Linked DNA regions of Homo sapiens. The protein of the gene in region 2 purifies or fractionates together with the protein of the main gene of each other region. This does not show direct contact. Each region holds a gene or a part of one and is shown on either strand. Other genes may lie near its edges.

Region 1 (3,778 bases), about 110 Mb from region 2:
CTATAAATGGGGAGGATTCATCAGAATGGAGGCAGTCCTTGAAAAATAAGAGCAGTAGGGTGTGGGAAGGGGCAGCACAGAGCCGTCAATAGAACATGGACTTAAATTGTCAAGACCTGTTGCCAAATATTGGTTGAATCATCAGCTTGCTGAATCACAGGAAACAGCTGCTGGGAAACAGTACCCCAACACTCTTAAGTGTACACATATCTCCTGGGGGTATCATTATATTGTTGTACTGTTGGAGGCATGTGAAGATTGATCTGTGTCTTCACAGATAGCTGGCATGAGGGGTGGTCTTTCAGAGGGTAAAGTTCATTTCCAGTGTTGGGTCACCCAGGAAAGAGAGCCTAAGACGACCTGAGGCTGGATTTAGAGTGGTGTCATGGTTCTCCGCTAGAGAACAGAGTATGGAGAGAATTGTATCTTTTTCAAGAGGTTATCTCAGCACCTATGGAGATGGTGGAAGAAGGACATTTGTGTAACATGTCAGAGCTTGTAAGCAGTGATTACCAACTGATATGAGCATCTCTGGGGCAGAAGTCTGAGGCTTATGTTTATCAAAAGTGATGTGTGTTTTATAGGGTTGGGAAACACTGACACATTGGCGGAAGAGTAGCCTCCCTCTTCTCATCTAGGCTTGGAGCAACAAATAAAATAGAATTTCATGTAGTAGGTGTTAGGGGATATCCACTGCTATGGAAAAAACTACAAACTAAAAAGGGATCAACTGGGTAAATGCCCAGAGTTCCATGCAGATATCATTCATCCATTATTTCCACATCTACTTACTGGATGCCTGTTTTCAGCCAGACACTCTACCAGCTGCTGTTCATACATCAGTGAATGAGACAGATGAGGACCTCCCCACCCTCACAGACTACAGTTCTGTGATCCTGGAGAACAAGTTGTATTTTCTAAGCTGCATTATCTAAATGCATGCATCCTCAAGTGTTCTTTCCCTGGTTTGTTCTCCCCCAGTCTTTACTGTAGTCTGCTGACCACTCTCTTCAGCCTTGTCTTGGCTATGCTAGCTTACTCCTTATGGAGGAATACCACAAGAATGAGTCAAAGAAGGCATGGTGCTGCTCTGAGCCAGCAGTGTTAGTTAGCAAGAAGCACCAGAGGAAGAGTAAATGTTTCGTTCTGTTTCTTTGATAGTTTAAGGTTTTGTTTGTACATTGTCCTTTTTAGCAAATATCTGTATGTCATTTTGCCATTCTGAAGAAATGGAGTTAATCTTTAGTGAGGATTATTTTATTTGGTCTTGTATGAGTAGATAAGTTATAACAACTCAACTCCAGATATCTTAGTTTTGACCTGAGTGATCTTTGTTATTCTTTCTGTACCTAAAGAAGAGAAATTGTTTGAATTGACTAGAAAAACTGATTGTTTGCTCTGTGTAAGTTACTCTAAGCATGTTAATATTACTATGCCCCTTAACTGTTATTTTTATTTTTGATCATCTTCTTCACTTTTCCTTTCTCTTTATACTCCTACCTATGTACTTCCACTGATGCACATCTTGATGAAGGTGTTACCGATTTGGAAACTAGAAATCACCTTTTTACTTAAAAAGAAAGAAATTGAAAAATACATCACCAGCCCGCAGAACTCAGGTTTTTATTTCTCTCACTATTGGTTTTGGCTTCTTTTCCCATGGCGTTGTTTGTTTTACTCCTCAAGGAAAAAGATTTTTATGGCCATGGAAAAAAGGAAAGATAGTTGGCACTAAGTCATTAGCTGGTATTCGACCTTCCTACTGGATAAGGCTTTGCTAGATAGCCTGGCCCCTCTCCTTGTCCTGTTGCATAAAGTGCTGTGAGGCGACTGCTTGCTTGGCGGTTTCCATCTGTGGATGTGGATGGACTGACCCTGCACCTCTGACCCCTGCAGATGGTGGTGAGTGCCATTGTGGACACCTTGAAGACAGCGTTTCCTCGCTCTGAACCCCAGAGCCCCACAGAGGAGCTGAGTGAGGCCGAGACCGAAAGCAAGCCCCAGACAGAAGGCAAGAAGGCTAGCAAGTGAGAAGCCCTCAGTTACCCAGGGACCTTTCCCCAGTTCTCAAATTGATCCCCAATCCTCAGCCAACACTCACCCTATTCTCAAGCCCTAGAGGAAAGGAGGTGGGTCAGACATACCAGTTTTTAGGCAAAGCTAGACCCCAGGCTCCTCAGTTTTCCACCCGGAGGAGCCTGCGGTGCTGCAGAGGCAGCACTGCTGAATGTTTGGTTTTGCCATGGGAACCTGGGGCCCAACTGACCAGGGATGTTTGACTAGGAAGAATATTCTCTTTTGACTAGGATATTCTCTTTCCTCTTTTCCTGGAAAATTGAGATGTTTCTTTCCTACTAAGAATTAAGGCTTATAACTGATCTCTGTTTGCCATCATTTCTGGAAATCTTGGCTCAGAAGTTGCATATATTAGCAATAAAGAGGAAAGGGTTAGAATGGAAACCTGCAGGGCCTATTTTAGTAACTGGTTGACTACTGCTACTCTTTCCTGCACTAGGGCCCTAGCTGTTCCCTGGCAGCATTCAAAGCCAACATGTGGCAAGCAAGGGCACCACATGTACCCTTACTGGAAATTTCATCTATATCTGGGTCCTTATGAAAAAAGAGAGAGCATGTGTGTATGTGTGTGTGTCTCTGTCTCTGTGCTTATGTTTCATGGGCCAGCAATAACAGACTCACAGTACCTAACCTTTTCTTAACTGGGCCCATATATTGAGGGATGACCATGATACCTCTGCTTATGAGTCTCTGTCCCTTGAAACATTGATGTTATCACTTGCAGTTCCTTTTCTGGTTTTATTTGGAACACAAGGGGAAAAAATGGATGTCCAAAAAGGATACACCATGAATAGCAATAATGAAAACTTGCTCTATGCCACCTGTCTGTTTAATCTTCAGCAAATTTTTAATGAGTGCCTATTATGTGTTAGCTAATCTATCCTGTGGGAATATAACCATAATACACACTGATGCCAGTTTTACTTAGCAGAAACCATTTCACAAGTGCACTGTAGACATAGCTTAGTGTATGCGTTAACATTATCTATCAAGAATTGCCAGAATATACATTGTTTGGGGGATTGCAGGGCCGAGTCTTTCCTGGCAGCTCTGACCACAGTAAGCTCCCCAGAATAAGTATGGATATTCTTGTTGTGTTTTATTATCAGTACTTGCCAGCCCTTAGTGTGAGGCTCAAGGCCATAAATTACAACCTGTTTCTGCTCTTTGTTTCTGTACCAGGTCTAGGCTGAGGTTCTCATCCAGTAAAATTTCTCCAGCACTAAGTGTGACTGAAGCACAAGACAAGATTCTTTATTGTCTCCAGGAAGGCAATGTGGTAAGAACCAAAACCCAGAGAATGTGAGGCAAAAATATCTGAGATGTTGGTCCTGCAGTTACAGGTAGTTGAGATATTCTCTGAAGTCAGAAATGTCCTGCTAAATGACTTAATCAACGTTTGGATCTCCAGCTTTTATGCTAAAAGTATTTTCTCTAAGTGGTTTGGAATTCCTACCAGTTCTGGGTTGGCAGGTTGGCTTCTCAACCATGGTGGGTTTCGGATAATGGATGACAAGATAAGAAAGAAAGCTAGTTCCTGGAAAAAAAAATGGATGACCAAAAATGGGTGCAGAAATGATAATCCCAGGGCAGGCCTGTTTTACTTGCAACTTCGGTAAAAAATAAAATCTTTCCTAAAGGAGTCATAGCATCAGTTGGGTTTTATACCCAAGGTACTTATGCAGGGGAGAGGCAGGGAAAC
Region 2 (3,778 bases):
TTGAGATGGGGGGATTCAGACCACAGCAGATGAGTTGAGACCCATTTATATAGATCGTGGAGTCAGAGCTTTGGCCCACAGGCCCTGAATCAGGGCTATTAGGGGATATCGTCTGAGCCTTTTGGTGCTTTTTAAGTGAGCCCAAGGGAGCCTGTGGTTAGGACATGAACGTACACGTATATGCCTACACATGTGCAGACAAACATGTGGGCACACATTTGTGTGTCCTTCCCCTTGTCCCTTTCCACTCACCAAGCACACCTAATGGAAAACTCTGGTCTCTTCCTTCCAGGGACACTCTAATTGTCACCTGCACCAACAGTGCCACAAGCATCTTTGCCGGCTTCGTCATCTTCTCCGTTATCGGCTTCATGGCCAATGAACGCAAAGTCAACATTGAGAATGTGGCAGACCAAGGTACAGGACAGTTGTTACCCTGCTGTTGCAGGGCAGGTCCCAGGCTCATGTCACAAGCTCCTAATTTAGACTATGCTGGGAAGCTGGCCTTCTGGAACAGGATAGAGGGTGGAGGAGCCCAGGTCCTTCTTTACAGAGGGACCAAGGCAGGCTCAAGTAGGAAGCTCACTGCAGAGTCAGAACTGGCTGGTCTCTAACTGGAGGGATTGCTTTAAAAGCCCTCTTTCCTTCTCCTTGCCTCTCCTTCCTCTTACCTTGCCCCTCTTAATTTAGCTCCAGTCTATAGAAATAAGGGTTATACCTGTTAGGTATGAGTAGAGAATTTATTAGGCAAACCATTGCCTCAGGAGCTGATGTGGGCACAGGCTGCTGTAGGATGACATTCATTGCAGAAGGCCCTGTCGAAACCAAGGCTTAGTGAGAGAACTGACTTCAGAGGAGCATTTTCCTTACAAAGCACTTTTCTGATTGTTAGGTCAAATGTGCTTTCAGGGCCTTCTGCTTAGTTAGCAATGCAGACCTGCAGTTTTTTTCCCCAGTGGGTAGAAATGTTGGATCGTGCTGGGTGGGTGGAGAGGCATGTGGAATAAATGTTTACTCTCTACCCAAATGATCTTTTTATTAATGGCTAACATTTGTATGGTGCTTTCAAGTTGACAAAGAGCTTTCATTTTTATTTCACTTAATCCATATTACTAGGACAGCATTTTGCAGAGAAAGCATTCAAGATTTTAGTTTAACTCTTCATTTTCACCCAGCCTGGTTCCACAAAGGATTTGTATATTTAGTAGGTTTCAGTGATCAAGGGATTTCATTGTGTCTGTTGTTTACCATTATGATCTCATTCTCAATTCAGACATTTATGGGATGCGTAGTGTGTTGGTCATGTGCCTCATGCTGTGGGGCATGACTGTGGCCCTGGACAACCAAGGGGCGTACCTGTGAGAGGCTTGTCTGGGCAGTTATCTTCCTTCAAGGAGCTGACTGCAATTCTCAGATAATGGCTCAGATGTGGTGAGAGAACTAAGCCCTGGAAATGTCACCTTCTTGGATACTAAGATTTCTTCTGGCTCCCCAAGGATAATTCATTACTGCGCCAATTCATGCTGATGGTGCACCAGGGGCCTCAAAGAGTTAAAGAGCCAGCACTTTCCAGGGGTGCAATTATCTCTCCCTGGAGAGAGTGTAAAACCCTGAGGGGTGTTTGGTTCCGCAGCAATGCACTAAATTAGAGGGGCCCCAGGAGATAAGCAATGGCTCTCCCTGGTTGAGAATTCTCAGATACCCTGGGAGGCAGGGAGGGAAAGTGAGAGGGTAAACGGGTTTTGTCCTTAGAGGTACTGGAGTCACTTCCAGCTGTCCTGTAACCTCATTTCCTCCTAGCAGAGTGGTTGGAGCAGATAGGTTCTGTCCCATTTTCTAGAAGATCTTAGGCATTTTGCTTTTTGTGACATTACTGAGTTCTTTTGGAACCAGTGGCCAACCTGCTAGAGACTGTGAATCCTGAGATGTGGGCCAGGTTAGTAAATGATTCTGAACTCTTTTCTGCTCCAGGAAACGGATTTCTGGGGAGATATTGCAAAAACTCAAACAGAATGTTGTTTATCTGGTGTGTAAAATTGCCAACAAATTGCCCATGTTTTCCTCTGAAATTTCTCCTTTCCAATGTTTTTTCACTTCCTTTGATTTGAACAAGGGTAGGGGCACTTCTAACAGGTTCTAACCTGTTGTGTTAATTCTTGTCTCTGGCACAGGGACGGGTGGGCCTCATCTCTCACAGGAGAAGGCCCATGAGATCTTCTCCCAGACCCACTGGGGAAGCTTTCCTGCTCATCTGAACCTGGATGTATTTTTATATGTGCTTTACAGGCTTGTCTTACTTGCCTTGATATAATGGAGGCTCTGCAGAATACAGGACAGAGATTTGGGGTCAGGCCTGCATTCAACCTGAGCCCCACTTCCTCCTTGCTGGGCAACACTGGCATATAGACATTCAGGACATTTTTGCTGACCCAACTTTGGTAACTAAGTTTTGATCTTTAGTCAAATAGAGGTTCTCTTTAATGACCTAACACTATGCGATTTAGTTTACCACTCCCTTCTAAAAGAGGCATTTCTACCAAAATGATCATCTTAAATCTTGGTCTTATCAAAATTTTGAGGGGCTGAGGATGGGATTGGTGAAGAGACCAAGCTGTGTTTTGCTTTTATGATAGGCATAGGGAAGGGGGCATGTTCTCGGGGAACTACTCTAGAAAAGCAGCTTCCAGGAAAGTTAGCCCTTCAGAGCCATCTCGCCACCATATGCATTACCACCTATGGAGCGGTGACTCATGTTCAGAATCTATCCTGAAGCCAAACAAAGATGCTTATCCAATAGCAGAAACACTGAGTTATACCAGAGTAGATAAGCAGAAATTTGCATATTTATTTAGCATTCCCAGGTGTAGGTAACTCTCAGCTAACCGGAGCACTAGAAATACTACTTTGGTTCCCTTGCCCCTTAATAGTTCAGATACCTTACTAATCAAAATAAGCATTCTCAAACAGCACTGATGTCCCACTTCCATGCAGCCATCTGTCTGTCACCTGTATCCCAATCCTTCTGCCCAAAGGCACAGAGGTCCAGGTGGCATATCCTCAGAGAGCTCATTCAATTTGTAATAGTTATCACAGCAGAGTGGCTACCCAAGCTGTGCCATGGGCCTTGATGCATTGCACTGACCAGAGCCCCTTGCTGTGTCTTTAGTGGCACTCTAGGATAAAGGAGGCTCTCATGGTAGGATCTCTGGGGACTCTGCTCAAGTTACTGAAATGAAGAGCCCCTTTGATCCCTTCTCATAAGAAGACTAATAATGGTCTATGTTTTCTGAGTTCATAGTATGTCCAGGCATTGTTCTAAGCCTTTTACTTGTGTTGATGCATTTAATTCTCACGGAAGCTCTATAAAGGTAGGTACTATTACTATTTCCATTGTGTGGATAAAGAAACTAAAGTTTGTCTAGAGAGAACAAGTGACCCCCTAAGTCCTCGGCTAGCAAGAGGTACAGCCAGTTTGTTTTTTGTTTCTTTTTGAGATGGAGTCTTGCTCTGTCACCCAGGCTGGAGTGCAGTGGTGCCATCTTGGCTCACTGCAACTTCTGCCTCCCGGGTTCACACCATTCTCCTGCCTCAGCCTCCTGAGTAGCTGGGACTACAGGCGCCCCCCACTACGCCCGGCTAATTTTTGTATTTTTAGTAGAGACGGGGTTTCACCATATTGGCCAGGCTGGTCTTGAACTCCTCACCTTGTGATCTGCCCACCTTGGCCTCCCAAAGTGTGGGGATTACAGGCGTGAGCCACCGCACCTGGCTGCCAGTT
Region 3 (3,778 bases), on a different chromosome or scaffold from region 2:
TAAGCTTTGGATTCAGAAGATCACCACCCTAGACTCGACATTTCCTAGTTAGTTCTCCTAATTAGTAATAAGATCAGTGGTTATAGTCTACATTTGGGTCATTTCTAGGATATTCTCCATTAAACTTTCCCAGGGAGTTTATTGTCTGAAAGAGCCTGGGATTCTGGAGATTTTCTTCTGCCCAATACTTTAAGACCTCCCGAGGAAGGTTCCAGAACTGATCCAGGATCTGCAGAGTGTTGAAGAACCCCTTTAAACATTAACCATTATGTACGAATCTGTCAGTTTTTTGTCAGTATGCATCAGGAATTCTAAGTGCTACCTATGACCCTGTCACTTCATCTTCTTGTCCTCAAAATTCTTCATCCACAGGAGGATGCTGGTAATAGTGACTCAAGATTCAGAAGTGCCACCTATATTGATCTTTTTCTTTAGCTCCAGGCAAGTTGCTGTTGTGGCCCTACTTCCAATGACTTGAGAATTTCCTCAAAATAAGTTTTCTGACTTGTAACCAGAAGGAGGTTATCAGTTCAGTTTTTAAACAAGGAAATAACTTCTAGTCTCTGTTTGGCTTTTAACAGATACGTCAGTATGTTGTACAGGTGATCTTCTCCGTGACGTTTGCATTTTCTTGCACCATGTTTGAGCTCATCATCTTTGAAATCTTAGGAGTATTGAATAGCAGGTGAGTAAGAGTACTGAAAACTCCTCTTGAAGAGTTCTGTGCTACATTCTTTACAGTGGAAAAGCTATTGGATCTCATAACTGAAAAAAAAAACACTGTGTTAATAGTTCAGTTTCAGTAACTGCAATGATCACAACAGATATGGGTCACAGCCACCTAATAGCTGGTTTGATAAAGATTATGAGATACCAGGAAACAAAAGATCTGACCGTTAACTCTGAAGAACTCATTGGAGTGAGGCTGTGAAGCTGCAGTCTAGGCTTCACTCCTAGAAGCTTTATTTTTCCAGGACTGCTCGCTGACTGAATCCCAGTAACAGCCCTTCACATTGTTCTGCTGATTGAAAATCTCTACCTGAAAAGATTAGAATTCCTCAGAGCTACTTTAATGATCTCTCTGAAGACTGAAACTCCAGTTCTTACTTAACTTAGTTATTTTTATTGATTTTACAGTCATGGTCAAGTTTGGTTGAATTTAAAGTGTTTCTTAAAACACTTTTTAAAAATAACTCTTTACTCCCCTCCAAATAATAGACTTGTTAGTTTATTAGACAGTCTATTCAAAATATTTCTTGCTTGTTAATCTGCAAGCTTGAGTATGTTTTTAGGCCAGCATTTATATGTAGGGTTCATCAACTATGCTATGCAGACTTTGTTGTGCTTTTTTATCACCACCTGGAAAAACCTTTTAGGAGTAAAGCAGTCTTTCACTCTAAAGTTAGGATTCAGTGCCAAGGTAAGTTCATTATAGACCCCTGGCACTTGAGACTTGTAGAGAGACTATACTCTCAAATCCTTTGATAATCAGAGTTGAAAACGAAATTTAAATTAAAAAGAAAAACTTACTATACAGATGGTTAATCACAAAACATTGAAAGGTTAAAAAAAAAAAAAGAAGAGAGAGGGGCCAGACATAGTGGCTCACGCCTATAATCCTAGCACTTTGGGAGGCTGAGGCAGGAGGATCACTTAAGTGCAGGGGTTCAAGACGAGCCTGGGCAACAAAGTGAGACCCTGTCTCTACAAAAAAATAAAAAAAATTAGCAGAGTGTGGTAGTACACGTCTGTAGTGCCAGCTACCCTGGAGGCTGAAGCAGGAGGATCCCTTGAGCCCAGGAGTTTGAGGATATGCAGTGAGCTGTGATCACTGGACAAGACAATGAGACCCCATCTCTTAAAAAAAAGAGTGAGAGAGAGAGAATCAGAGTTGATAATAATGGTCTCTTGATAGAACAATGAATAACATGTATTATGGTAAAATAGAAGTGTTTTCTGATTCTCCTGCTTTTAAACTTTAATAATCCAAACCTTGGCCGGGCACGGTGGCTCACGCCTGTAATCCCAGCACTTTGGGAGGCCAAGGCAGGCGGATCACGAGGTCAGGAGATCAAGACCATCCTGGCTAACATGGTGAAACCCCGTCTCTACTAAAAATACAAAAAATTAGCTGGGCGTGGTGGTGGGCGCCTGTAGTCCCAGCTACTTGGGGGGCTGAGGCAGGAGAATGGCCTGAACCCAGGAGGCAGAGCTTGCAGTGAGCCGAGATTGTGCCACTGCACTCCAGCCTGGGCGACAGAGCAAGACTCCATCTCAAAAAAATAAATAAATAAAAAATAATCCAAACCTTTTCTTGGATGAGCTAGATATAGATCCTGTGACTATAGAGAATAGACAGGTATTATTTTACATAATGGTTATTAAATTTTATTATCACAACCTGCATCTTTCACTGCTATTTAAGCAGGGGTTGGCAGGCTTTCTTCTGTAAAGGGCCAGATAATAAATATTTTAGGTTTCTGTGGACCAGAAGGTTTCTATCACAAGTACTCAGCTCTGCTGTTGTAGAGAGAAAACAGTCATAGGCAATATATAAACAAACGAGCATGGCCATGCTCCAATAAACTTAATTTGTAAAAGCAGGTGGCTGTGAGGCCATAGTTTGCCAGCTACTCATCTAAATATTGATACAGAGGATTCAGATATTCTAAAGCTATATTTACTGTTTTTGGTAGATGATGTCCCCCAACTTTTAACTTATAGTTAATAACCCGTATAGTAAGAAACATCTGTCATACTATGGTGTATGTTTCCTAAATTTCTTAATTAGTTAAAGAGGATAAGAAGTAGCATTGCTAAAATCTGGTTTTTCTTTGTGTGCTATATAGAGGATTGGGTCTGAGACATATCTTCAGTTATACCTGTTTTTTCATGCTAATGTTTCACCCAATTATGGAACACAAATATGAACCTTGATGATGTATAACTGTCCATTGACTGGACTCAGAATCGTTTTGAAAAGAGAATCTTGGCCAGAATATTCCTTTGACTCACCTTTGAGCAGAGATCATATGACTTCCTATTCAAATATGTAATCTTGTTGGGATGCTTAGTTTTTTCAAGAGAATATCACTTTACTCTCAGCTCAAAAGACTAGTTAAAACATGTGGTTCACTTTTAATAGGCAGTCCATACTGCCAATTAAAGTTGCACTTGTTATTTCAAACCCACTGCTTCCCAAAATCTTTCAGAAGCTTAGCTGAAATACTATGTAGTATTGCCTGGAGGATGTCCAGCTTGTTTCTTTCTCTAAATGTTCTAAAGTAGTTGTTAACCTAGAGGAGCAAAAAGCTGTCAATGTATCTAGTCTAAATGGTATTCACTCCCTGTAGGGTAGCTTTTACTGAATGGCTCTTTGTTTCGTGATGCCTGCCATCTGTACTAAGGAAGGAACAATAAGAAACAGCCCTCTGAAACATATTTCTCTTGAAAGGATGTTGTTGATGACACTGTTAATTGCCTTTGCATTTTCTTTATGAAATCTTTGAAGAAATTTCATTGTAATCTTGTTAATAATTCAGTAACAATAAATGATAATTATGCTTCCTTTGAGGAATTAATTTTTATTTTCTTACAGACATGATGATTTTATCTAACTGATCAAATTTTTTATTTCACATTGACCATTAGAAAACTTAAAGCTAAATTTATGACCTACCCATAGCAACTTTCTAGAATTCTGTTTTATAATAGCCATCAGGCTTGGCCCAATATTTTACCTGTTACCATTGTTGTTCATATTTCCTTATAGTTCATT
Region 4 (3,778 bases), on a different chromosome or scaffold from region 2:
TAAAAAGTATTTGCTGGTTTCTTTATTTTAATTTCTATTAACTAAAGTTATCAGCTCAAAAGATAGAAACAACAGAAGTATAAATGAAAGCATCTTTGATTTTGAGGAACTTTTGAGAGGACCTATCTGACTCATTAAATCTTTTTTGTTCTTTAGTACTCCCACAGGATTTTTTAAAATCCCATGGTATAATTTGTATACAATAAAATGCACACAGTTCAGCCAGTTTGAAAATGTATACACCCATGTAATCAGAACATTTCCATGTCCCCAAAAGGTCCTTTCCTGTCAGTCCCCACCTGATCCCCTGGCCCAGAAACCTCTCAGCTACCTCCCATCCTCATAGATCTGTCTTTCTCAGGGTTCCATGTGGATGGAATCTCACTGCCCTTTTGTGGTTGGTTATTTCCCCTTCCCCCAGCTTGGCATTTGTTACCCCAGCTTGGCATTTCATCCATATTATTGCATATTAGGAGTTCCATCCTTCTTTATTGCCAAGTAGTACTTTATTGTATTAAAAGCTTCGTGTTTCAAGTACCATCATGGTACAGTCTCTACCTACCAGTAATCATCTAACATGGAAACTTGTTTCAGATTAAGGTATCCATCTTGCCATGTTGCCTTGACAGAATGTGTCTGCAGATTAGAAAACGCACTTAGGAACTTTGCCTGTCTGACCACCGGGGATGTGATTGCCATCAACTATAATGAAAAGGTGAGCCCAGTTCATGCAGGTCATTCCTGACAAGAGCCACCTGCAGTGTCCATTCTAATGTTTGAATGGGGCTTCTTTTTAAGCAGCGTATGCCTGGATCTTATCACCTAATTACTGCCTACTGTTTGGTTATTAAGTTTTCCCGGGTTCATATTTAGAGCCCTAATTCATTTGGTAACTCTGTTTTGAGGATAGATTGCATTTACAGGGGAACATTGATAGACTTATTAGTCATACCTCTGTGTACCTTGGTGGCAAGGCTGCTGGTTCTGTCTTGGTTTGAAAGGTCCCCACTGCACCTCTAATCTGAGCTAAGCCCTTTGCAGGGCTGTGGAGACACAATAACAACCCTGCTGGGTCCTTGTCCTTGGGATACCTGCCCCACAGAAGCTGACAGGCCCTTCAGTGGGGCCAAGTGCTGTGTGGCATCTGAGAAGCAAAGCCTGGCTCTGCCTTAGGGCAACACCTCCTAGGCTCACCTCTCCTCCTGGGAGCCCACATCCTCCTCCACCTCCTGTTTTCTTCAGCTTCCGTTTTCACTTAGCAGCTTCTCTAGGCTTGACCTTTCTGACACAAGTCTCTCAGGTCTGAATGCCTCTGTTTTCATCCCTGATTTTATGCTGTTTAGGTGTCTGGATCTAGACAATTTAACTGTAAAGTGAAATGACAGGACTTAGTCCAAAATTCAAGAAAGCATTCACTTTCCTATTACCTATGGGAATATGCCTGCAGGAGGATGTAATAGTTGGCAATCCTGCCATCAGGCTGTCCCACCACAGGCATGGAGCACAGTAATATGGGTGCCCCTGTTCACTGTGACTGTTGACAATTGACCCTCCCACAGAGCTGTTGCCAGGGCTAGCCTTAGTGTTCGGGAGTGACCACAGCCTGGCTTGGCTGGGCTTTCCCTGAAGCTAGCACTTAGCTCCTTCACAGCACTCTCTGGTCCCTTCGGGGACTGGGCCGTCACAGCTGTGTCACAGCTGCCTGTGGTTTAGCCAGTTACTCCCTTGGTGTCAGTGCAGGGATCCAGCTTATTCTCTGGCAGTTTCCTCATATTTGAGGCATCTGACCTTATTTTTCAGTTCCTTGGGTTTCGAATCACACTTTCTTTTTTCCTTTTAATAAACTAAGAAATAATCTTGTTCCCTTTAGCTTTGTGGAGAACATTTTAGGTATCGTTTACCTTAACTGAATACTCTAAGCTTTTATAATTAATTACAGGCAGTTTAATGTTATTGTTTTTAATGTTAAGGTAGTAATACTACATATAACTCCTAAACTGATGATAAAGGATAGTACTGATACTTTGCACTCTAAGGGAGGGTACATTATATAAGAGTGTATGTAAAATTGAAACACAGGTTTGAACTTCCACTTTTAGAAGTAGGGAAAACTAGATCCTCTAATGGGCCCTTCTGATTAATGTACTGTTGTGCTTATAGAGAATTTTAAACACTCTAAGCTGGGTTGCCCTGAGGGCAGATGGCCATATCAGTGCTCTAGTGGGAGATCTGAGTCAGAGATCAGGATTGAACGGGAACCCTTAAAAGCAGTAAAATATACACAGAGGTGGGTGTTGTCATTGTCTCAGGAGAAATAAACAGATCCTCTCTGGAAAAAGCACTCCAGTTTAGTTACGTCTTTGGGATTGCTGTCAATTGAACAAGCAAAGAACACATAATTAAACTACACCAAAGCAGAGACAATAAAAATTAGATCCCTAAGGAAATCAGCATTAGAATTTCTAGATACAAATGTAAAATAATTAGATATAAAATGTTCAAAGATATTTTTTAAAATGGAATTATAATAGCGAGCAACAAAAGGCTATCAAAAATAACCAGAAAGATTTGAAAAACAATGTTAAACAACAGCTATAAAAGAGTTAATGAAAGATGAATCTGAAGAAATAACAGAATTTCACACAGAGGAGCAAGGGGATGGAACATATGAGAGCTTGAGATGTTGAAGACACTGAGAAAGTCAAACATGCCCATTGCAATCCCAGTAGGAAAGAATGGAGGAATTGCAATAATCTGAAGAGATGGTAACTGAAATTGATTTAGAATTGGTGGTCAGCCCATCATGACAGGAAATTTATAATGTATAACAAACAGAATAAGCTACAGGTAGAAAATACCAAATACAGAGAGGTAAGCAGGGAGAAAACACAGTACCTTCAGAAGAACAGCAAGTAGCAGGTCTTTGAATAGCAACAGTTACAGCCAGTATCAAGTAACTATCATCAAAACCTTCCTTAAAGAATAAGGGCAAAGTGAAAATATTTTCAGATGAACCAAATCTGAGAGAGGTTATTTACCAATGGAATTTTAAAAGCATGTACTTTAGGAATAAGCATTATCCTAGAAGGAAAGCAAGAAGGAATAGGGAATAAATAAATTGGCAAATATGAATCCAGGGTAAATGTTGCCATATAAAGCAGTAATAATGTTTAATGTATGAAGCTTAAAAAATGACATCTAAAATGTTGGAAAAGAGTAAGTCTTTAGACTTACTCTCTTTTTTTTTGAGAGAGTCTCTCTTTGTCTCACCCTGGCTGGAGTGCAGTGGCGCGATCTTGGCTCACTGCAGCTACCACCTCCTGGGTTCGAGCAATTCTCCTGTCTCATCTCAGCCACCTGAGTAGCTGGGACTACAGGCATGTGCCACCACTTGCGGCTACTTTTGTATTTTTAGTAGAGACGAGGTTTCACCATGTTGGCCAGGCTGGTCTCGAACTCCTGACCTCAGGTGAGCCATCAGCCTCAGCCTCCCAAAGTGCTGGGATTATAGATGTGAGCCACCGCGCCTGGCCTAGACTTACTCTCTTGAGAGAGTTGTTTAGAATTAAAGTGTTCTCTGTTTACAATTCAATAAAGTTAATAAAAAAGATAGCTGAAGCTGGGTGTGGTAGCTCACACCTGTAATCCCAGCAATTTGGGAGGCTGAGGTGGGTGGATCACTTAAGTCCAGGAGTTTGAGACCAGACTGGGCAACATGGCAAAACCCCATCTCGACAAAAAATACAAAAATTAGCTGGGCATGGTGGCATGCACCTGT
Region 5 (4,133 bases), on a different chromosome or scaffold from region 2:
GGGCCTCTTAGGCATGAGTCATAGAATGGACAAGGCAAGAATAAGACCCTTTCAGTAAGGACCTAAAAGCCTTCAACCTTCTAGCTGCAGAACTGCTTTAATTTCACTCCAATCCTAGTTTGTATTTTCCAGGTACAGTCTTTGCCCGCTGCCTGATTTTTCCTCTCATCGTGACGGGCCAGCGAGAGGCAGCCAGGATCCACAATCACTTGCCAGAGATCCAGAAGTTTTCCAGTCGAATCAGAGAGGCCAAGTTAGCAGGAGACCATATTGAGTGTGAGTCAGTTGCAGAATGAGCGTGGGAGAAGTCCACATTTGCACTTTTCCTTACATTCTGCTGGGGGAAAGGAACAATGTAAATCAGAAGTTGCCACAGTCGGGAAAGTTCTAAAGGTTTATCTGTTTCTTAGACCTAATGCTCCCAAGGAGTGGCCAGGGTTGGTTAGAAATTTCACAGGCCAGGTAGATAATGAGGATGTTCACCTCCACTGATGTAACTGTTACCCCAACCATTAATTTCCCCTCACCTCACAGATTACAAGGCTTCCTCGGAGATGGCACTTTACCAGAAAAAACATGGTATTAAACTCTATAAACCTCTCATTCTCCCTGTGACTCAGGTGAGCAAAAACATTTCCTTCCTTATTTCATCCAGTACCCATGAAATTTCCTCTCTGTGTTTCATGTGTCCCAGGTCCCCCAAAAAACAGGTGGTGGTGGATTATACATGGCTTTCAGTAGTGGGGTGATGAAAATGTTCTCTCTGGTAAAGCATGCTGACACTGTTTATCTTGTGTAATAGGCCCCAATCTTCATCTCCTTCTTCATTGCTTTGAGAGAGATGGCCAACCTTCCTGTGCCCAGCCTGCAGACAGGTGGCCTCTGGTGGTTCCAGGATCTCACGGTATCCGATCCCATCTACATATTACCACTGGCAGTCACTGCTACAATGTGGGCTGTTCTTGAGGTAAGCCCAGATTGGCCAAGTGCCAGGCCTGCAAAGTGAACTGGGGTTGGAGGGTAAAGTAGTTGTACAGAATGGTCATCCTTCACTTGCTGGAGAAAGAGTTGATGGGTAAGAGATTAGAGACAGATTCACTGAAACTGACAGCTTTCCCGACTTTTCCACCCCACTTCTTTTGGCAGCTAGGTGCTGAGACAGGTGTGCAAAGTTCTGACCTTCAGTGGATGAGAAATGTCATCAGAATGATGCCCCTGATAACCTTGCCCATAACCATGCATTTCCCCACGGTATGTAATGCCTTATGGGCTGGCTCCAAGGCCTTCTGCCTAGCCTAGCCACCTAGCAAGCTGACCAGGGATACAGCTTCTGAGTCCCTTCTCTGTGTTCTCACCCAGGCAGTGTTTATGTACTGGCTCTCCTCCAATTTGTTTTCCCTGGTCCAAGTATCCTGTCTCCGGATTCCAGCAGTACGCACTGTACTTAAAATCCCCCAGCGTGTTGTACATGACCTGGACAAATTACCTCCACGGGAAGGCTTCCTAGAGAGCTTCAAAAAAGGTAAGGGCTCATCCTCTGTGAAAAAGGACTAGGGAAAGGGGTCTAAAAATAGGAATGCAACTGACTCTCTTGCTTCTCTTTACACAGGCTGGAAAAATGCTGAAATGACGCGTCAGCTGCGAGAGCGTGAACAACGCATGCGGAATCAGTTGGAGCTAGCAGCCAGGGGTAAATAGTCCTTTCAGGCCAAATTCTGTCTTTTGTTTCTTCCTTTCTGTTCTTCGTTGAAATTTGTTTTCTCTTCTCCCCTCAGGTCCTTTACGACAGACCTTTACCCACAACCCTCTCCTACAACCTGGAAAGGATAACCCTCCCAATATCCCTAGCAGCAGCAGCAAACCAAAGTCAAAGTATCCCTGGCACGACACACTTGGCTGACTTATGTTCTGTGCGCATTCTGGCAGGAATTCTGTCTCTTCAGAGACTCATCCTCAAAACAAGACTTGACACTGTGTCCTTGCCCCAGTCCTAGGAACTGTGGCACACAGAGATGTTCATTTTAAAAACGGATTTCATGAAACACTCTTGTACTTATGTTTATAAGAGAGCACTGGGTAGCCAAGTGATCTTCCCATTCACAGAGTTAGTAAACCTCTGTACTACATGCTGCTTCCTGATACTTATTGAACAGGGAAATCAGTGTGCACTTCAGAAAACTGAAGAATACCCAGCATTTTGGGAGGCCGAGGTGGGTGGATCACCTGAGATCAGGAGTTTGAGACCAGCCTGGCCAACATGGGGAAACGCCATCTCTGCTGTTTTACAAAAATAGCCACACGTGGTGGTGCACACCTGTAGTCCCAGCTACTCGGGAGGCTGAGGCAGGAGAATTGCTTGAATCCGAGAGGCGGAGGTTGCAGTGAGCCAAGATCGCACCACCGCACTCCAGCCTGGGCAATAGAGGGAGACTGTCTCAAAAAAAAAAGAAAACTGAAGAATAGAGTGAGTCATGATTGCTTTTGCTGGCCCATGGCCTTGGAAAATATAATGTTTTAACCTGGCATTAAGGGTTTAAACTTCCACCCAGGCGCAGTGGCTCACGCCAGTAATCCCAGCACTTTTGGGAGGCCAAGGCGGGCGGATCACGAAGTCAGCAGATCGAGACCATCCTGGCCAACATGGTGAAACCCCGTCTCTACTAAAAAAAAAAAAAAAAAAATTAGCCGGGCATGGCGGCGGGTGCCTGTATTCCCAGCTACTTGGGAGGCTGAGGCAGGAGAATGGCGTGAACCCAGGAGGCAGAGCTTGCAGTGAGCCGAGATTGCGCCACTGCACTCCAGCCTGGGCAAGAGAGTGAGACTCCTTCTCAAAAAAAAAAAAAAAAAAAAAAAAAAAAAAACAGTTTAAACTTCCAACCCATGCATGTGTTGTTCTATGCACATTTGGATTGCAGTCTAGAGGTGTGGCTGATAAGTTGAATGTTGAGATTGTATCTAAATATAGTAACCGCACTTCTTGATCCCAAGATTACTTTAAAAATTTCAAGAAGTAGATGTGTGCAAATTCTTAGTGATAATTAAGAATGAAAGTTCCAGGCTGGGCAAAGTGGCTCACACCTATAATCTCAGCACTTTGGGAGGCTGAGGTGGGTAGATCACTTGAGTCCAGGAATTTGAGACCAGCCTGGGCAACATGGCGAGACCTTGTCTCTGCTAAAAAGTTAGCTGAGCATGGTGGTGCTTGTCCATAGTCCCAGCTACCTGGGAGGCTGAGGTGGGAGGATAGCTTAAGCCCAGGAGGTTGAGGCTGCAGTGATCCAAGATCATGCTGCTATACTCCAGCCTTGGCTACAGAGCAAGATCCTGTCTCAAAAAGGAAGTTCATGTCATTTTTATGTAACAATCCAACATTTGACTAGAGCAGTTTAAGTGTTCTGTTGTCTGCCTTTGTGTAGAGCCTGGTTTATCAGCCTTCAGCAGCTAGCTTGAGAGAGAAAAGATGGATATACTTTCAAGCATAAGATTGATTTTAGTCTTTGTGTTTCTAGGCTAATGGGAGCTGTCCTAGAGATAGATACTATATAAAATGAAGCCACTCAGACTTTAGGAACATAAACTTTTATTGTCATCCAGCACCTGTGATAGTTTCATGTCTCTCTAAAGGAGACAGGAAATTGGAGCATTGTGGGCCCTTTTAAAAGAAAAGAGGAGTAGGTAGGCACACCCAGGTGCTTCTAAAACAACCAAGCCCAAACCTGACATGCTCCTCCCCACAGTCACCTTCATTGTCCCCTTTAAAAGTCTGGAACAGTATGTAGCAAAACAAATAAATTACTTTTCATTTCAAAAAGTAAGTTCAAAGGTTGAAGCTGCCTAGGCCAGGCTTCTGGACAGGTGCCTCCAAAGAAGTGAGCTTTCCTTTTCAACTTCCTTAGCTCTAGCCAGTAGACCAGAAACCCCTGCTTTCCACATCAGGATTCCAGATGGTGTTTAGTTAGATTTGGGATCCCGTTGCTTGGGCATCTCTCCTCCATCTTCCAAATCCATTTCTGCAGCAACTGACATACACAGGACCTGGAGGTACCTTGTGGCAGACCCTACAAAGAGAACTTTGAGTTGGAATTGAGAAGAGGTCAGCTGGGCTGAGTTCAAGTGTCACTGAATGGAACTCA
Region 6 (4,564 bases), on a different chromosome or scaffold from region 2:
CTGCAACCTCCACCTCCCAGGTTCAAGTGATCCTCCCACCTTGGCCTCCTGAGTAGCTGGGACTAGAGGTGCGCATCACCACGCCCAGCTAATTTTTGTATTTTTAGTAGAGACGGGGTTGCACTATGTTGGCCAGGCTGGTCTCCAACTCCTGACCTCAAGTGATCCCCCCGCCTCGCCCTCCCAAAGTTCTGGGATTATAGGCGTGAGCCACTGCATCCAGCCCTTTTATTTTTTAAAGAGACATGGGTTCTCGCTATGTTGCCCAGACTAGATTCAAACCCCTGGGCTCCAGGGATCCTCCCACCTCAGCCTCTGGAGTAGCTGGGACTAAAGGCACATGCCGCCGCCCCTGGCTAATACTCATATGCATGTTGCCAGGATTAAAATGAATGAACAAAGGGAAGGACATGCTGGAGCCAACTTATACAGGTTGGGAGGAGCTGTTCAATTTTCAGAAATTTTGCAAACTGGTTGTTAAACAGCTGGTTTAACAACTGGTTTTGTTTGTTTGTTGAGACAGGGTCTCACTCTGTCACCCACAGTGGAGTGCAGTGGCAAGATCAAGGCTCACTGCAGCCTTGACCTCCCAGGCTCATGCAATCCTCCCACCTCAGCCTCCCAAGTAGCTGGAACTACTCGCACACACCACCACGCCCGGCTATTTTTATTATTTGTAGAGACGGGGATCTCACCATATTGCCCAGGCTGGTCTTGAAGTCCTGGACTCAAGCGATCCTTCCACCTCAGCCCCCTAAAGTTAAACAGCTATGGTTAAAAATGAAATGATATAAACTTACTCAAAACTGGTAACTTCCTAATTTTACCACATTCCACTATTCTCTATGCTCTTGAGGTCATTTACCCCCATTTTATCTGTATGGTAAAAATAATACATGATAGTGCACTACTGCATCTCTTTTAAACTCCCTGTTCAGTGACCACAGGTCGGTACCTTGAAATCTAACAAGAAGATTGTACCTAAGCCATGGAAATTGGTAAATGCTAGAAACCAGCCTCCCTTCCCCCCACCCCTCCCCGCCACCACCCCCGCCCCAGCCAGTGGTTAACCATTTACCAGCACACCACTGAGGGCATTTAGAGCCTAGCACATGGTAAACACTATGATAAACGTTTTCATTATTTTTCCGTTTGTCCACTGGGTCAGGATGTATAGTCTTTTTTTGTGTCTGGGATGGAATTTAAAATATTTGAAGATCACAGAATTACAAAAGCCCAGAGAGTGGCTAAGCTACACCTATTTAACCCTCCCAATAATGCTGTTAAGTCTATACTATTGATTATCCCCACTTTCCAGACAGGGAAACTGAAGTTCTGAGGCAGTAAAACTCAGGCAGCGCCATGCATTAGCTGTAGTGCGATCTGAAATTGCAGCCGAGCAGCCTCCGCGCGCTCGCGCACTTCAAGAACGCATTTTCCTTACTGTCACGTTTATGCCCCGAGTGGTAATTTCGCTTCCCGGCACGCGAAAAATGAATGGGCGCCATCTTGCGCGTGGCATCTTGGGAAATGTAGTTTACAGGCTCAATAACAAGCACGGTCCAAGAAGGGAGGGGCGGGGGAGCAAATCGATCTTGGCCTCGGAAGAAAAAGAACAAAGAATCGCTGGCAACTTGCGCGTCGCGTCGCTGCAGCCACGCAGTGCGTGGATTCAGCCGCTTTGGCCGTGCCCGTTGCATGCCGGGAAACGCAGTTCGCGAGCCCCGGATACGTCGACAATAGATGACGGGGCTCACGTTGTACGTTCACATCAGGTCCCGGCCCGCCGGAACCTGGGCGATCCACGATGCCGAGTTTGCCACGCTGCGACAGCCCATAGGCTTGCCCCCCCGGGCATTCGGGTGGACTACGAACACAAACTGAAGCCCTAGGACTTGTCGCCCGTTTGCGCTCTCGCCGAGGCACAGGCTGCTCGCGGACCACCCTGCTCCGAAAACTAAGGTGGGCCCTGGGGCGCGGAGGACAGGAATGCGGGCGGAGGCTATTGAGGCACGCCTGCACTGTCCCGCCTGCGGGGAAAGGAGGGAGGTCCGCCCTGGGCGCCGTAGCTGTGTATGGTTCGGGCGGCTGGCACCGGGTGGGTTCTAGACCCAAGGTTTGTCTGCAGAAGGGGACCAGTAGACGGGGTGGATTCGAGGTGGGGACATGGGACGCAGCGGTCGGAGCCGCCTGGAGGGGTACCCGGTGGTCCCGATGGAGCTATCATCTTTGAGGTATTGATGAGGAGGGACGGGGAGTGTGGTCAGAAGGCTGTTTTGGGAGGTTGGGTGGAGCGTGAGGGTGGGGTGTTACTGGGGAATCAATGGGGGCTAATAAGAATATTTTAGTCGAACTGTTGTTCATTGATTGATTAATGAGGGGATGGCAGAGTAAGCAACTAGAATATAACGAGTGATGGATGGGAAAATGATCCCCCAGGTATTGATGGAGGTATGATATTCAACGGGTTAATGGAAAGTGATGGGGCATCGTAATGGCAAGGATGATGGTGAGGTTGTGGGGGGAATAATAGATGGATGGAGGTCATGATCAAGGGGCCTTGGTGAAAGAAAAGATAATGAGAGGCTGATGGTGTTGTAGTCAGAGTCAGTAGTTGGGCTATGGTGGCATGACCGTCGAGGAATTAGGGGACAGAGTGAGTAAAGAGAGGGCAATAGTAAACTAGGGTTGGGGGGGTTAACTTCTGTTGATACATAGTAGGTGAATAGTAAACTGTTGGAGTGTGATCATCCAGTGATGGATCCATGGAGAGCAGGGTGGACAGTGAGGGGAGAATGGGGAACTGATGTGTGATCAGTTAACGTGTTTGTTAATGAAAGAGTTACAGGGCAGGAGGCTAGTGCTGTGATCTATGAAGGGTCTATTGGAGAAAACTGAGTTAATGGGGGCTGATAAATCAGTAATTGAATGCTTAATGGGGAGCTAATAGACCATGATTCTCCAGGCATTGTTAGAGGTTCATAAGGATGTAGTAATAAAGGGGCCTAATCATCTAAGGGATTAATGGCGAATGGGGTGAAACGAGAGAGATATAGGGAGTGGGAGGTACAATGAAGTAGTATTAGGATAAAGGTGGAAAACAAGGGATTAATGGGGGCTAATAGGACTATATGAATCTAGGGGCAATGGGGACAACTGGGGATACAGTCAGTGAGATTTTAATGGGCATGACATGAGCAGAGAAGGGTTGATAGTGGCAGTTGCAGGGTTTAATGTGTGGAGTGTGGGTGACAGTGATGGGAGGTGGACAGGTTCACAAGTGGGCCATCTATGGGATGAATGTTGGGTTTATGGGGTCTTTTGTGGGAACTGTGGGGTAAGTGATGGGGGCGAGGAGGGTCTGTGTGATAAGCAGTGGAGCCTGAGAGTTCAGTGATTGGGTCCTTCAGGCCCTATAAGGTCAGTGGGGTCAGTGCCAGGGCTTCAGTCAGCCCATCTTCTGTGTGAGCTGTCATGTGGGTCAGATGAGCCCAGTTTAGTTTGTGTGGTTCTCTCCGCCCTACAGAGGTAGGTGGTAGCCCATTCATCTGGTTACTGATACTGGCCGGCATCAGTGGACTGTCGGCAGGTCCTTGAGCAACTGGTGTGTGAAATGGGACGGACGTCAAAGGACAAGCGGGATGTCTACTACCGCCTGGCCAAGGAGAATGGCTGGCGTGCTCGCAGCGCCTTCAAACTGCTACAACTGGATAAGGAATTCCAACTCTTCCAAGGTCCCTGACTGGTGGGCAGGTCACTGGGCGGTGAGGTGGGCACAGGAGGTAAACAAGTAGGCTGGGTCTGCAGAGCTCCCTGTGGTAGGTGGGCTGACTCAGAGGGTCTCTGGGGCAGGGAGACAGGCAGGAAGATAGGCAGAATACCGGAGAGGAGTTGGGCACCTGGGCAATGGAGATATGTGGGTGCTCCCCAGGGGAGAGGGGTGAATTTTGCAAGGGTCTCCAGGTTGGAGAAGTGGGTGCAGCTGATCAGGATGCTTTCACTATGTATGCCCAGGCGTGACACGGGCAGTTGACCTGTGTGCAGCCCCAGGCAGCTGGAGCCAGGTGCTGAGCCAGAAGATCGGGTAAGTGTGGGGGTCCCAGATGGGAGACCCAGGAGGGCCGGCTGGGTGGGAGGGGCCCGGGAGCGAAACTAGGCTGATGTGGGCCATGTTGTCCACAGGGGCCAAGGGTCCGGCCACGTGGTGGCTGTGGACCTGCAGGCTATGGCTCCACTACCAGGTGTGGTACAGATCCAGGGGGACATCACCCAGGTAAGAGCATGGCTGAGGGTGTTGGGGTATATCCTGGGTGAAGGCCCTTACCTGGGGTCTATGCAGAGTGGAAGAGAAACAGAGAGGTGATAGAAACAGAGAGAGAAAGAGAGTGAGAGAGTAACCATGGAGAAACAGTCAGCAGGTCATCATTGCACAGACACAGCAGAAAATGATGATGCTGGGTCCCCAGAGGTGGAGCCCAGTCTTAGAGAGGCAAAGCCTGGGAATTTGGCTGACCCAGGGGCTGTGGGCCAGGACCATGGGCAGGCGGGATCTGAGGGCAGCAGT
Region 7 (4,391 bases), about 65 Mb from region 2:
CGGGGCTTGCAGTGAGCCGAAATCACACCACTACACTCCAGCCTGGGTGACAGAACGAGACTCAGTCTCAAAAACAAAAAAAAAAATCAGCTGATCAGCTGGGCGTGGTGGCACACGCCTGTAATCCCAGCTACTCTGGAGGCTGAAGCAGGAGAATCGCTTGAACCTGGAAGGCAGAAGTTGCAATGAGCTGAGATCAGGCCATTGCACTCCAGCCTGGCCGACGAGAGCAAAACTCTGTCTAAAAAATAAAAAATAAAAATAAAAAAAAGACTAGGAATTTTCCTTCTTGTACACCTTCGTGAAAATAAGTCTTTCTATTTGTGCAAGTTTAGAAACTGCAATTACAGACTTCTTGGCACTATGGAGCCTAATGGTCAAGCAACCCTGCAATGGAGAGACAGTATAAAAATTATCTGGACAATGCAACACTTTATCACTTGTTCAGAAATTTGAGAGGATGAGAATAATTAAGATTTCTGATAATGTGTTATGATCATGTATTTATTGCTACAGTTAGTTATATATTTTTTGGCACAATGTTTACCTGCTAATCTTAATGGAGTTAAGATAAAATTCAATTGTAGGCATTTTTCCCTTCTATTGGGTTAATTAGTCCAAGCGAACTGAGCAAAGGTTGCAGGGAGCCCCAGCATGGCTGAGGAAGACCTGGTGAGGCATCCACTGGCTGCTGGGAGGAGAGCATTAGAGGTACCTTCTGAACAGCACTGTCCAATAGAAATATAATGCAAGCCACATATATAATTCTAAATTTTCTAGTATTTATACTTAAAAAGCAAGAAGAAATAAGATGACTTTCACCCAACACTGCTTCCAAATAAGCAGTACTCTGGAGAACACGAGAAATCCTCAGAAAAATAAGCTGCAGCTCTGAGGTGCTGATTATGGTAGGGCAATCAATACAGATCAAAACATGGCACAGGGAGCTTAAGTTCCTAGGGAGAGTAGAAAATCGATAGAGCCAAGAAATAGCTCACCTTTGACTTATTTTTAACCTGAGTAGCTATCATATGCCAAGAGCTGTGCAGTTTTCATTTACCCCATGCCAAGAACGTAAGTAGGCTCTACTGACCAGGAAGTTAAGTAATATGCCCGAGGTACGTTTTCAATGGAAGAGGCTGACTGAGGGTCACCCAACTTATATCTCGAAATTTCACAATTTCTACAAGTTCTGTCCTGGGAGGCAAGAGTAGGTGAAACGAGCACACTCTACGCCAGGCAAACAAACCTCAACGCTTAGCCTCCCGGCACCTCCTAGGGCCGGAAGCTTCTCAGCCCAAAGCCGCTGCTGGCTGCAACCTCCGTCCCGCAGTCCAATTAGCAGCCGCGACCCGGCGCCCGCCCACGCCGCGTCACGAGTCAGCCAAAGATGGCTGCGCCCAGGTAATTTGAGCAAAGGCCACAGTGAACTCCGGCGTGGCTGAGGAAGGAGGAGGCACCCACAGGCTGCTGGGAGGAGAGCATAAGGTACTGGTATTCCGGGGGAGGGGGTGAAGTAAATGTCCCGGTGTCAGGAGAAGCACGACGCGGTGACACGCTAGCTACCAGCAGCGCTGCGCGTAAATGAGAGCAAGTAGAAGTGTAGTTAGCTCTTCCTGCTGTCTTTTCACTTTGCACTCTAGAAGGAAAGACCTTATATTTAAATTAACTCAGTAGAAAGGAGAAATGCCTGAGATTGAATTTAATCCCAGGTTTACTGTCAATTTACAAGGTGACCACGGCCAAATTTGATTTTCAGAGGTCCCACTTTACTTCTCTTTCAGATAGGCCCCACACTGCCTATCTCTCAGAGCTCTTCCAAGAATGACATGAGATAGGTAACACAAAAATCTTTCGAAATATTTGTAGTTTTTACAGGCGGCGTTGTCTTTGATAGATATTTGTTATTAATATCGGAGACAAAATGCCCACAGGGGCTGCCCAGTCAGCACTTATACTGAATTGAGTGACTTAATTGCCCTCAGTACAATATATACATACTAAATTTGATTATATATTTCACCACCCCATACACAAAATCATTCAGAGCTCCTGTACAGCAGAGATTGTGTCTTATCATCTTATCGTAGCCAAGGCCCTCAAAAATTTGACTACCAGAAACCTAGACATAAATTTCTAAGGCTGCTTTGTACTTATTAGGTTAGCTTTAAGTCTAGAGATATGGAATGTCAAGGTAATCAACATTTCCAAATGACCTCTTATCGATATAAAACAGGTAGCAATAAATATTTAAACGAGTGCCTGTAATGTTGTAGGAAATGAGAAAATCTGGTTTCATAAAAGCATGTTTTCCTTTGTTGTTATCCCTGAACTGTTTTTTTTTTTTTTTTTGTAGACCGAGTCTCGCTCTCACCCAGGCTGGAGTGCAGTGGCGAGATCTCGGCACACTGCAACCTCCACCTCCCAGGTTCAAGCGATTCTCCTGCCTCAGCCTCCCGAGTAGCTGGGATTACAGGCAGCTGCCGCCGTGCCTGGCTAATTTTTGTATTTTTAAAAGACAGGGAGTTTCACCATGTTGGCCAGGCTGGTCTCGAACTCCTGACCTCAGGTGATCCGTCTGCCTTGGCCTCCCAAGGTGCTGGGATTACAGGCGTGAGCCACTGCATCCAGCCTTTGTTTTTCTTAACTGTTACCCTGAAACCTGAGCCAAATCTTCATCATTCACCATTCCCTTCACATTTTCACCCTAACTAGTGCAGACATCAACAAACTACTGGCATGTAGGCCATATGCAGCCTATAGCTTGCCTTGGTACAGCCACCCAGCTAAGAATGATTTTTATGTTTTTATAGTTTTTTTAAAAACAAATATTCAACAAAGGCTGTATGTTACCTGCAAAGCCTACCACATTTACATCTGGCCCTTTAAAGTTTGCTGAGCCCTGATCTCAGGTATACCTAGAAATGAAATTGCTAGCTATGTGTGTCTTCTATCTGCTAAATAATACCAAATTCTTTCCCAAAGTGACTGTACAGTTTGGGTAAAGCTACCCCACAGAATGTACACAGAATGTAGTTTTAGCTACCCCGCATTCTTGCCAATAATTGGAATTGTCAGATTTTGATTTTAGCTAACCTATGGGTACCTATTGGTATCTCACTGTGGGTTGTTCCCCCAGTTATAATGAAGGTGAGCATATTTTCATGTTTATTGGCCATTTAACTTTCCTTTTTGTGAAGTGCCTGTTCAAATATTTTGTCAGTTTTTCCGTAGGGCTGCTTACCTTTTTCATGTTGATATGTAGTTCCATGTATGTTCTGGGTACTAACTACTCTTTTGTCAGTTCTATTGCATTTTCTCCCCCACTAGCTTATCTTTATGGTATATGTTGATAACCATAGGTTCTTAACTTCAATACTGTTAGTTTTATAAGTCTTTTATGTTTAGTGCTATTTGTGAATTGTTTAGGAAATACTTTCAAGGATTATGAAGATATTCTGTATTTCCTAAAAGCTTTATGTGTTGCTTTTCATGTTCTGGTTTCTGTTTCACTTAGATTTTTTTTTAATAATATGTATGCAATGATTTTTTTCAGATTAGCTCTACAGTATTATTTTTAGTCTTCAGAAGGTTTTTAAAATTCTTTGTATAAATTCTTGAGAAATGATATCTTCATGTTTTTTAAGGCTCAAAATGGAAAATCATAAATCCAATAATAAGGAAAACATAACAATTGTTGATATATCCAGAAAAATTAACCAGCTTCCAGAAGCAGAAAGGTAAGATCCCTTCTTAATTTAAAAACACCTTTTATCAGGTGGATTTTCACCATTGATTCATTATCTCAAGTTTATCTGGTTTGAGTATAAACAACATGGAATGTGAGAAGGAAATTGCCCTTTTCTTGCCTGGATGAGAGCGTTTAACCATTTTGCTCAACATCACATAGCTAATTGTGGAAGGTGAGGCTGGAACTCATGTCTTTGGACATACCTAATTGTATAATGTTTTGAGTTTTTCCATTAGGCTTGGAGTATAGTAAAATGTAAACATTTACAGACCCATTTAAATAACAAAACTTTAACTTTTAAAATGTCTTTTTTTTCCCAGTTCATTCTGTCAGTATGCTTACCAGTCTAAGAGTACCATAGAACACACATAGCAAGATAGAGAATGTCAGAGAAATAGGATCATGGCTAAAGATCTTTAAGATATTATTAAAGAGGGCCAGGCATGGTGGCTCACGCCAGTAATCCCAGCACTTTGGGAGGCCAGGGTGGGCAGATCACCTGAGGTCAGGAGTTCAGACCAGCCTGGCCAACATGGTGAAACCTCATCTCTACTAAAAGTACAAAAATTAGCTGGGCGTGGTGGCAGGTGCCTGTAATCCCAGCTACTTGGGAGGCTGAGGCAGGAGAATTGCTTGAACC

What was found.
Region 1: the proteins of SLC6A5 (region 2) and SNX19 purify together in Homo sapiens (affinity purification with mass spectrometry; 2 studies listed by BioGRID and IntAct, with this or other methods). This does not show direct contact.
Region 3: the proteins of SLC6A5 (region 2) and GPR89A purify together in Homo sapiens (affinity purification with mass spectrometry, with the first as the bait; 2 studies listed by BioGRID). This does not show direct contact.
Region 4: the proteins of SLC6A5 (region 2) and UFD1 purify together in Homo sapiens (affinity purification with mass spectrometry; one large-scale study listed by BioGRID and IntAct). This does not show direct contact.
Region 5: the proteins of SLC6A5 (region 2) and OXA1L purify together in Homo sapiens (affinity purification with mass spectrometry; one large-scale study listed by BioGRID and IntAct). This does not show direct contact.
Region 6: the proteins of SLC6A5 (region 2) and FTSJ1 purify together in Homo sapiens (affinity purification with mass spectrometry; one large-scale study listed by BioGRID and IntAct). This does not show direct contact.
Region 7: the proteins of SLC6A5 (region 2) and TMEM126A purify together in Homo sapiens (affinity purification with mass spectrometry; one large-scale study listed by BioGRID and IntAct). This does not show direct contact.

The regions. Positions count from the first base shown.
Region 1 is NC_000011.10:130,906,202-130,909,979, reverse strand, and holds part of SNX19 (sorting nexin-19), read left to right. Parts: intron 1-1,534; exon of another isoform or gene 1,535-1,619; intron 1,620-1,896; coding exon 1,897-2,027; intron 2,028-3,258; coding exon 3,259-3,355; intron 3,356-3,778. UniProt on the Homo sapiens protein: Plays a role in intracellular vesicle trafficking and exocytosis. May play a role in maintaining insulin-containing dense core vesicles in pancreatic beta-cells and in preventing their degradation. May play a role in insulin secretion.
Region 2 is NC_000011.10:20,630,399-20,634,176, forward strand, and holds part of SLC6A5 (sodium- and chloride-dependent glycine transporter 2), read left to right. Parts: intron 1-292; coding exon 293-417; intron 418-3,778.
Region 3 is NC_000001.11:145,617,739-145,621,516, forward strand, and holds part of GPR89A (Golgi pH regulator A), read left to right. Parts: intron 1-581; coding exon 582-685; intron 686-3,778. UniProt on the Homo sapiens protein: Voltage-gated channel that enables the transfer of anions such as iodide, chloride, bromide and fluoride which may function in counter-ion conductance and participates in Golgi acidification.
Region 4 is NC_000022.11:19,462,139-19,465,916, reverse strand, and holds part of UFD1 (ubiquitin recognition factor in ER-associated degradation protein 1), read left to right. Parts: intron 1-642; coding exon 643-715; intron 716-3,778. UniProt on the Homo sapiens protein: Essential component of the ubiquitin-dependent proteolytic pathway which degrades ubiquitin fusion proteins.
Region 5 is NC_000014.9:22,769,659-22,773,791, forward strand, and holds the end of OXA1L (mitochondrial inner membrane protein OXA1L), read left to right. Parts: intron 1-132; coding exon 133-276; intron 277-534; coding exon 535-620; intron 621-802; coding exon 803-967; intron 968-1,146; coding exon 1,147-1,251; intron 1,252-1,359; coding exon 1,360-1,522; intron 1,523-1,609; coding exon 1,610-1,690; intron 1,691-1,775; coding exon 1,776-1,900; 3' UTR 1,901-3,384; downstream 3,385-4,133. Other genes in the region: SLC7A7 (Y+L amino acid transporter 1), read right to left, coding at 3,952-4,058.
Region 6 is NC_000023.11:48,474,435-48,478,998, forward strand, and holds the start of FTSJ1 (tRNA (cytidine(32)/guanosine(34)-2'-O)-methyltransferase), read left to right. Parts: upstream 1-1,764; 5' UTR 1,765-1,962; intron 1,963-2,128; exon of another isoform or gene 2,129-2,234; intron 2,235-3,526; 5' UTR 3,527-3,613; coding exon 3,614-3,734; intron 3,735-4,014; coding exon 4,015-4,084; intron 4,085-4,182; coding exon 4,183-4,273; intron 4,274-4,564. UniProt on the Homo sapiens protein: Methylates the 2'-O-ribose of nucleotides at positions 32 and 34 of the tRNA anticodon loop of substrate tRNAs. Requisite for faithful cytoplasmic translation.
Region 7 is NC_000011.10:85,646,602-85,650,992, forward strand, and holds the start of TMEM126A (transmembrane protein 126A), read left to right. Parts: upstream 1-1,365; 5' UTR 1,366-1,488; intron 1,489-3,647; 5' UTR 3,648-3,654; coding exon 3,655-3,740; intron 3,741-4,391. UniProt on the Homo sapiens protein: Protein required for the cotranslational protein quality control in the inner membrane of the mitochondria.